2 separate regions of the Homo sapiens genome follow, and region 2 is linked to region 1. The links come from fine-mapping of genetic effects on gene expression. A gene starts in region 1. The other region holds a variant in brackets. All regions are shown on one strand. Distances are between the middles of the regions.

Region 1 (5,000 bases):
GCAGCTTTATTCATAATTGCCAAAAACTGGAAAAACCCATATGTCCTTCAACCAGGGACTAGATAAACAAATAGTGGTGTATTCATCTAGTGGAATACCAGCAAGAAGACATGAACCACAGATACATGCAACAACATGGATGAATTTTAGATACTTTATGACAGATGAAAGAAGCCAGACTGAAAAGGTGTCATACTGTATGATTCCATCTATATGATATTCTGGAAATATCAAAACTATAGGGACAGGCCAGGCGTGGTGGCTCATGCCTGTAACCCCAGCACTTTGGGAGCCTGATGCTGGCAGATCACCTGAGGTCAGGAGTTTGAGACCATCCTGGGCAACATGATGAAACCCTGTCTCTACTAAAAATACAAAAATTAGCCAGGTGTGGTGGCACGTGCCTGTCATCCCAGCTACTCAGGAGGCTGAGGCAGGAGAATCGCTTGAACCCGGGAGGCGGAGGTTGCAGTGAGCTGAGATTGCACCACTGCACTCCAGCCTGGGTGATAGAGCGAGACTCCGTCTCAAAAAAACAAAAACAAAAACAAAAACTATAGGGACAGAAATCAAGTCAGTGGTTGCCAGTGGATGGGGTGAGGCAAGAGGGAATTTGGGGGAATGAAATTGTCCTATAACTAGATTGTGGTAGTAGTTACATGGTTATATACATTTATTTATTTTGTTTTATTATTGTTTTCTTATTATTTGTTTGTTTGTTTTGAGATGGAGTCTTGCTCTGTCACCCAGGCTGGAGTGCAATGGTGCAATCTTGGCTCACTGCAACCTCCACCTCTCGGGTTCAAGTGATTCTGTGCACCACCACGGCCAGCTACGTTTTGTATTTTTAGTAGATAGAGACGGGTTTTACCATGTTGGCCAGGCTGGTCTCGAACCCCTGACCTCAAGTGATCTGGCAGCCTCGGCCTCCCCACGTGCTGGGATTATAGGCGTGAGTCACCATGCCCAGTCGTTTATACACATTTATCAAAACTCACTGCATCATAAATTGCAAGAGTAAATTTTACTGTATGTAAATATCTTAATTTTTTAAAGGAAAAAAAAAGTCCAAAATAAGTAGCTATAATTACCTTTTCCTTTTAGAAAAAGGCATTCATATTTTCTGAGCATGAGAGAACTACAGGCTCATTGTAGACATTTGGGAAAATGTACAAAGGATGTACATTCATCACGTGCAGAAAAGTAATATTTCCTTGCTGTGAGCTTTATTGGCACAGAATACACACAAAGCTGGGACCATGCTATGCATTTTTTAAATGAAATTATACATTTTGCTTTCTGAAATATATTGTGCATATTTTTCATGTCATTAATTTTCAAAATCATGATTTTATGAATCAATAATATTCTATGTTTACTTAAGAGACAGAGTCTCCCTTTGTGGCCCAGGCTGGAGTGCAGTGGCGCAAAGGAATCATTCCTCACTGCAGCCTCAAACTCCTGGGCTCAAGCGATCCTCAGTGGTGGGATGAGATCTAGACCCCTGATATTCAATCTCAGAAAGTCAATAATTCCCTGCCTCAGCCTCCTGAGTAGCTGGGGCTGCAGGCCTGTGCCACTGCACCAGGTTCAATGTATATTTTATTTTGTCTTTTTTTTCTTTTTTTAATGTATATTTTTTAGCATTCCTTTGTTGTTAGAAATTACATTGTTTATATAATTATTATTTGTCAATTAAAAATAAAAGAAAAAATCATACTGCTCCTATTTTTTACTTTGAGCAACTCTGATAACAACAACAAAAAAAAGTTCAGTGGGGCCAACGCGTTTCCCTCCTGGAGTTTCCCGGTTCACCTGGTGGAGCGGGTCCTCCTTGGGCTGCAATTCCCTCCTTCTTTTCAGTGTCTGCAGGAAAGGTGGTTTCACAGGGTGATCGGTGATCTGGCTTATTTGTTCCTTTGTGGGGGTAAGGGCTGGGCACCTCACTATTTCCTGTATTACCAGCTTGAATTTACATCGCGCTGTTAATGTTTAATCCTCTCCACATCGACGCGGGGTAGTAATTTGTTCCAAGTCACACAACTTATCAATGGTGGACTATTCAGGACTTAGATCCCGGATATTCAACCTCAGTAAACGTCTCCCCAGCTCCAGGGCGCTGCGTCATCTGGCTTTAAAAAAACGTTTCTGGCCGGGCGCAGTAGCTCACGCCTGTCATCCCAGCACTTTGGGAGGCCGAGGCGGGCGGATCACGAGGTCAAGAGTTCGAGACCAGCCTGGCCAACATGGTGAAACCTCGTCTCCACTAAAAATACAAAAATTAGCTGGGCGTGGTGGCGGGCGCCTGTAATCCCAGCTACTCGGGAGGCTGAGACAGGAGAATCGCTTGAACCCAGCAGGCGGGGTTGCAGTGAGCCGAGATCGCGCCGTTGCACTCCAGCCTGGGCAACAAGTAAGACTCCGTCTCAAAAAAAAAAAAAAAAAAAAAAAAGACGTTTCTCCCCATAAGGAGGCTGCAGTCACCTCGAAAAGCTTCTGCGCAGAGCCCGGCGCACGGGGAATTTCTATCGAGTGGGCACTGTCCCGTCCTACGAATGTCCTTGGCGACATCGCCACTCGCCAGCTGGGATCACGTCGCCCCCGTGGCCGGGGACACCCGCTGCCACTGACCGAGGGGGCCCCGGGAGCTGAGAGGTCGCCGCTGCGCTGCCCGCGGAGGCTGTGGGCTGCGGTTGGCGACGCCGCAGGGCTGACTTTCATCCGGGCGTCCTGCTGGAGGCCAGACCCTACCCCAACCTCGGGGTCCTCAGTGCGGGGCGCGCCTTGGGGAGGGAAGAGGCCCCGCCCATCCTAAGGACGCGCTGAGGCCACGCGGGGCCGCCGGGATACTGCGTTGCCCGGGAGACACCTGACGTGACAGGAACGCCGCCAGTCTCAGTCCGCCGTGATCCCACAGTTCCCCGGTCCCGGAAGTGCCCTGGCCTGCCGGAAGTGCCGGAGCGGCTGACAGAGCGGCTGACGGAGCCGGGCTCACCAGGTCGCTGCCGCGAGGGAGTTGCTGTGCTGGGGCCTGGGTGGCGGCTGGAGGCCTGAGTTGGGCTCGCGGCGGGGGTCGGCAGGGGGCCGGGTGGCGGAATGATGGAGGAGGAGGAACTGGAGTTCGTGGAGGAGCTGGAAGCCGTGCTGCAGCTCACGCCCGAGGTGCAGCTGGCCATCGAGCAGGTAAGCGTTCCGCCCCTCAGGAGGGGAAACGGGAGTGCGGGAGGGGAGACGGCAGCTCCGGGCGCTGGGGAGGCCGCGGCGGGTGGACGGAGGGCCGGGGGCTCGCGGCAGAAGGGAAAGTGGAGGTGGGGAGGTGGTGCGGGTGAGAAGCGGTTTCTGAATCAGAAGGAAAGGAAAGAGAACCCTTTCTAGGCTTTGATTGTCTTTGGCGAGGGCTGGGGGTTCTGGTGGTTTTGGGGAAAGGAATTGTGCGCTTAGAGAGGACGACGCTAGGAGAATGCAGGCCTTGGGTGCCATCCTCAGATTCTGGGGACTGTGGGGGCTTCATGCATTTACCAGACTCGTGCCAACGCCCCGGTTTTGCAAGCTGGCACCTCGTGAGTGGCTTGGAACTGGGGGAAGGGAATGACTTTAATTTCTGAAGCGGACGGCAGAGAAGAGAGAAAGTGTTGAAAAATGACATCGTTACCATTCTTAAAAGGTTGAGAATTCCTACCGTTGAATAGTTTGGGTGAGGTTGGAGAATACTCCCAAGGGGCCTCTTTTCCCTTCAGGAACTTTTTTTTTTTTTTTTTTTTGAGACGGATTCTCGCTCTGTCGCCCGGGCTGGAGTGCAACGGCACGATCTCGGCTCACTGCGACCTCCGCCTCCCGAGTTCAAGCGATTCTCCTGTCTCAGCCTCCTGAGTAGCTGTGATTACAGGCGCACGCCACCACACCCGGCTAATTTTTTTTTTTTTTTGGGGTAAAGACGGGGGTTTCACCGTTTTGGCCAGGATGGTCTCGAACTCCTGAGCTCAAGTAACCCGCCCGCCTTGGCCTCCCAAAGTGCTGGGATTACAGGCGTGAGCCACCACGCGCGGCCCTGCCTGCAGGAACTCTTGCCTTTGCAAGTTTATTGAGTTTTTAAGGCTAATGATATTAGAAATAGTGATTTTTTTCTTTTCTTTTTTTCTTTTTTTTTGTTTTCTGAGACGGAGTCTCGCTCTTTCGCCCAGGTTGGAGTGTAGGGGTGCCATCTCGGCTCACTGCAACCTCCGCTTCCAGGTTCAAGTGATTCTCCTGCCTCAGCCTCCTGAGTAGCTGGGACTACAGGCAACCGCTACCATGCCTAGCTAATTTTTGTATTTTTAGTAGAGACCGGGTTTCACCATGTTGGCCAGGCTGGTCTTGAACTCCTGACCTCAGGCTATCCGCCCGCCTCGGCCTCCCAAAGTGCTGGGATTACAGGTGTGAGCCACTGCACCCGGTCAGAAATAGTGATTTCTAATACTGCAGGGTATTGCTCCTGATAAACGGAGAAAATCTCCCTTAAAGGAATTGTCATGAAGTTATATGATTTAAGAAAGGGATTTATGATTGAGGAAATGGACAATTCCATTATGCCTTATTTAATGACCCCTGGGAAACTTTTTTTTTTTGAGATAGGGTCTTGCTCTGTTGTCCAGGCTGGAGTACAGTGGCATAATCGTAGCTCACTGCAGCCTCGAACTCCTGGGGCTCAAGTGATAACCCTGCCTCAGCCTCCCGAGTAGCTGGGACTACAGGTGCATTCATTGACGCTTCGATGTGTGTTTTTCCAGTAGTGGTTGGATTACTTATACAACCAACTTTGTCCTAGCCTGAGAACGCCAAACCATTGGGCAGGAAGCTTTTAGTGTTCCGGCCACACGGCTCCACCACTTACCTCCTTTTGCCAGAAAAAGACATAACATTTCTGTTGCTCTTTGGACTAGTGGGCTCTCATGGAAGAAAAGAATAATGCAGTCAGTTACTGTTTGGTTGACAGGTATCAGAAAAGCACATTTTTGCTATTT
Region 2 (5,000 bases), 190 kb after region 1:
TGAGTACTATATAAAGTGAGTTCTTTATCTTTGGGCCCCAGAGTCCTCGAGCAATTGCAAGGGCACGTGGAACTGACCCACACCAATATTGATCATGCTTCTTGCTAGTTTATGATCTTCAGATCATCCTGTTTTGCAGGGTCACTAATTATTCTTATGACTGCGTTCACCTATGAAAGCTTTTCTTTCCCTTGAGATTAAGGATAAGAGGAGAATGTCCGCTGTCACCATTTCTATCCCACGTTGTTGTTGAAGTCCTGGCTAGGACAACAAGGCAAAAAATACAATATTTTTAAAAGAAACAAAATATATACAGATTAGAAAGGAGGAAACTAAGCTGTCATTTTTCATGGAAAATATGATTATGAGTAATAAATCTAAAAGGATCTACAGATAAACTGTTAGAATATAAATTTAGCAGGCCGGGTGCAGTGGCTTACACCCTTAATCCCAACACTTTGGGAGGCCGAGGCGGGCGGATCACAAGGTCAAGAGTTAAAGACCAGCCTGACCAACACAGTGAAACCCCCGTCTCTACTAAAAATACAAAAATTAGCTGGGCAAGGTGTGGTGCGCCTGTAATCCCAGCTGCTCGAGAGGCTGAGGCAGGAGAATTGCTTGAACCTGGGAGAACTGCTTGAACCTGGGAGGTTGCAGTGAGCTGAGATTGCGCCACTGCACTCCAGCCTGAGTGATAGAGACTCCGTCTCAAAAAAAAAAAAAAAAAAAGAATATAAATTTAGCAAGGTTGCTGGCTATAAGGAAAGTGTTTTAAAATATATTTCTATATACCAGCAGCAAACAATTTAAAAATGAACATTTTTGAGTGAAATACTTTTTTTTTTTGCTGTATTGCCCAGGCTGGAGTGAGTACAGTGGCACAATCATAGCTCACTGCAGTCTCAATTCGTGGGCTCAAGCCATCCTCCTGCCTCAACTTCTCAAGTATCTGGGACTACAGGAATGTACTACCATGCCTGGCTGGCTCTTTTTTTTTTTTTTTGGTAGATATAGGGTCTGCCTCCCTGTGTCTCCCAGGCTGGTCTCAAACTCCACCCTCCTCAGCCTCCCAAAGTGGTGCGATTACAGGCGTGAGCCATGGCTCCCAGGCCTAAATGAAATCATTTACAATAACATCAGGAAACATTAAATACCTAGGAGTAAATTAAAAATGTACAAGTCTTCTACACAGAAAACTGTACAATATTAAGACACAGAATCCATAAAGACCTTTAAAATGACAGGATAGCTCATGTTCATTGATAAGAAAGACTCAAAAAGAAATACATATGGAGTCTTTCTGAGCCTGCTCTGGCTGAGGAGGCTGCCCAATAAAAAATAAATAACAATTTAAAAAGCGGCAAATTATTCCAAAATTAATCTATAGATAGAATTCAATCCTAATTACTGTATCAATTTATCTATAGATACAGTAGAATCCCAGCAGGGGTGTGTGTGTGTGTGTGTGTGTGTGAGTGTGTGTGTGTGAATTGATATGCTGATTTTAAAAGTTAGATGAAAATACAGAAGACAACAGCCAAAATAATCTTAGAACAGAATTGGAGGAGTTAAAGCTCAGGATATCAAGACTTATTGCAGCAGTATTGTAATTAGAGCAGTGTGGCACTGGCCCCAGGGACAAAGAGGCCAACAGAACAGATCTGAGCTGAGGGATAGACCCACACATGTGTAGATACTTGATTTATGACCAAAGTGGCATCATTCAAAGAGAGTCTTTTCAGTAAATAGTGCTGGGTAATTGGATATCCATATCGGAAAAAAATCTTGACCTTTGCCACACACCATATATAAAAATCAATTCCAAAGAGGATTTGGTGAAATTAGAACACTCATACATTGCTGGTGGTAATGCAAAACGGTACAGCCATTTTGGAAAACAGTTTGGCATTTACATAGAGTTACCACAGGGCCCAGCAATTATACTCCTAGATATATACCCAAATGAATTGAAAAAGGCAGGGTGCATGGTTCACACCTGTAATCCCAGCACTTTGGGAGGCTGAGGCAGGCAGATCACCTGAGGTCAGGAGTTCGAGACCAGCCTGGCCAACATGGTGAAAACCCACTTCTACTAAAAATACAAAAATTAGCTGTACATGGTGGTGTGCACCTGTAACTCCAGCTACTCGGGAAGCTGAGGCAGGAGAATCACTTGAACCTGGGAGGCAGAGATTGCAGTGAGCCAAGATTGCGCCACTGTACCTTCAGGCTGGGTGACAGGGTGAGACTCTGTCTCAAAAAAAAAAAAAAAAAAAAGAATTGAAAAAAAAATGTGTTCACACAAAAGCTTGTACACAAATATTCATAGCA[G/A]CACCATTTATAATAGCCAGAAAGTAGAAACAACTCAAATGTCCATCAGCTGATGATAAACAAAATGTGGTCTATCCATACAAGGGAATATTACTCAGCCATTAAAAGGAATAAAGTACCCATTCATGCTACAACATGGAAGAGCCTTGAAACCATGTTAAGTGAAAGAAGCCAGACACAAAAAGCCACCTATTGTGTGACTCTGCTTCTGTGAAATGTCCAGAACAGGCAAATCCGTAAAACAGAAAGTGGATTAATGGTTGGCAAAGGCTGAGGGAGGGGGAGATGGGAATGGCTGCTAATGGGTAAGGGTTTCTTTCTGGGGTGATAATGTGTTCTGAAACCAGATAATGCTGACAGCTGTACAACCTTGTGAATAGACCTTAAAAACCACTGAATTGTACACTTCCAAAAGGTAAATTTTATGGTTTTTGAATTATATCTCCATTTTTAGAAAATTAATCCCAGATGGATTATGGCTCTAAAAAATAAGGCAATAAAGCTTCTGGAAGATTTAATATAAGACAATATGTTTATGACCTTGGGTTAGGCAAAGATCCCTTAAACAAAACATTAAAAGCACTAACCATAAAAGAAAAGATTGGTTATTTTGAGTACTTAAAAGACTTTGGCCAAGTGCGATGGCTTGTGCCTGTAATCCTAGCACTCTGGGAGGCTGTGGCAGGAAGACTGCTTGAGCTCAGCAGTTTGAGATCAGCCTGGGCAACACAGCGAGACCCCATCTCTACAAAACAATTTAAAAATTAGCCAAGTGTGGCACGTGCCTGTAGTCCTAGCCACTCGGGAAGCTGAGACAGGAGGATCAGTTGAGCCAAGGAGTTCAAGGTTGCAGTGAGCTATGATTGCACCACTGCATTCCAGCCCAGGTGACAGAGTAAGACCCTGTCTCTAATCATAATAATAATTTAAAAGAGTGATGATACCAAGTGTTGGTAAGGATGTGGAGCATCTGGAACTTTCATATGTGCTGGTAGAAATGGAAGTTAGCCCAGCCACATTGGAAAACTCCTAGGCAGTTAGCCAAACATATGCCTACCCCATGATCCAGCAGTTCTACTCTTGAGTAGCTTCCACCCTAGAGAAATGAGGACTTTATGACCACCAAAGGCATGCGCACGAATGTTCACAGCAGGTTTATGAGCAGGAAACAAGCTACAGTGAGAGAGAGCAGGAGAGACGAATGTTCACAGCAAGTTTATGAAGCAGGCAACTAGCTACAGTGAGAGAGAGTAGGAGAGACGAATGTTCAGAGCAGGTTTATGAGCAGGCAACTAGCTACAGTGAGAGACAGCAGGAGAGTTTGTTGAGAGGGAAAGGAGAGCATTGACTGGACGAGAGCATGAGGAAGGCTTCAGGGATGCCAGAAGTGTGCTCTGTCTTCCGTTAGGCAGCAGGATGTGCACATGTCTGGATGTTGATCAAATGGCATACGTGGTGTTTGTGTACTCTGTGAAAGTTATACCTAATTTTTTTAAAAAGAAAAAGAAATAGAACATGTGTCCACCTTGTTCCATCCCTCCTGATAGCCTGAGCTGTCTCCCCTGTGCCACCTCATTGAAGAATTTTCTATGGTGGGACCAATATGGTTCACCTATGTGGTTTTGTTCACATGGTTCTTTGTCTTCTAGGAGTGTGGGCCTGTATCTTATTTACGCAAAATTTTCATCACTGTTGATAGTCATCATGTCCCCAAGAATTGTAGGAGGCTCCTCGGGAAGTAAAGGGCCCCTCTCAAAGATTTCCATTGCTGGGTGATCAGCCTTCACAGGCATGGCATACTGGCCACCCTTGCACCCCCACATCCCATCAACAACATTAGCCAGCCCACACTGCCCCAGAAATTATCGCTGAGGCAGAAATGAATGTGGCAATAGCCACCCCTTGCCCAATGTCTCATGCCTAAGAAGATGAATTATCAACTATTTCAAAGTTGAAAACTAGCAGATTTTCATGATAAATGGGACCTTTCTGTCTTGTCTTTGCACAGACAGCCGCCAAATCTGTCAGGCTCATTCCCGCCTTTTCTGACTGCCTTGCTTTATGTATAAAACCTGAGACCAGGGTTTTCACCTCTCAGTGTCTGGTAAAGACAGAATTTTATGGTGACTGGCCAGGGAATGAAAGTGTCATATCTCCCTGTATATGAGGGACACTAGAGAATTATGCCTGGTGCATTCAAACCCTTCCTGTCATTTAAGACTGTACAATTATTTATGCATATAATGTATCTCTGGGAAGTAGAAAAGTAGGAAATATCTCCATATGCTTTAAAATATAATGACTGATTTTTTTTTTCCTACCAACAAATGAATGCTAAGACATGGCTTTGATTTTGACAAGGCTCTCAAAATTTGCTACATGGAAGACAGAGTTGAGTCCTGAATGGTAGTCTTTAAACAAAAATTCCAGTTAATTAATGTACAGAAAATAATGTAAAAAACAGTAACTAACTACTCAGCTCAGCAAAATATGTAACATGTTTCCACATTTACTTTACATCTTTTTTTTTTTTTTTTTTTTTTTTGAGAAAATGTCTCACCGTGTTGCCCAGTCTGGAGTACAATGGCGCGATCTCGGCTCACTGCAACCTTCACCTCCCGAGTTCAAGCAATTCTCCTGCCTCAGCCTCCCGAGTAGCTGGGATTACA

The links.
Region 2: its variant is fine-mapped to the expression of VPS53 in whole blood (TOPMed, PIP above 0.99).

The regions. Positions count from the first base shown.
Region 1 is chr17:712,806-717,805 of GRCh38, reverse strand. VPS53 (VPS53 subunit of GARP complex) reads left to right here and starts at 2,967. Exons shown (of 22, transcript NM_001128159.3): 1 at 2,967-3,183. The coding sequence starts at 3,097. RefSeq lists an enhancer at 2,426-2,495.
Region 2 is chr17:525,873-530,872 of GRCh38, reverse strand. The region is part of intron 19 of VPS53 (VPS53 subunit of GARP complex); the gene reads left to right. The region is part of intron 1 of VPS53-AS1 (VPS53 antisense RNA 1); the gene reads right to left. Among named protein-coding and RNA genes, the nearest start is that of VPS53-AS1, 5.6 kb to the right of the region's middle. The variant G/A (reference allele first, on the strand shown) is at 2,332.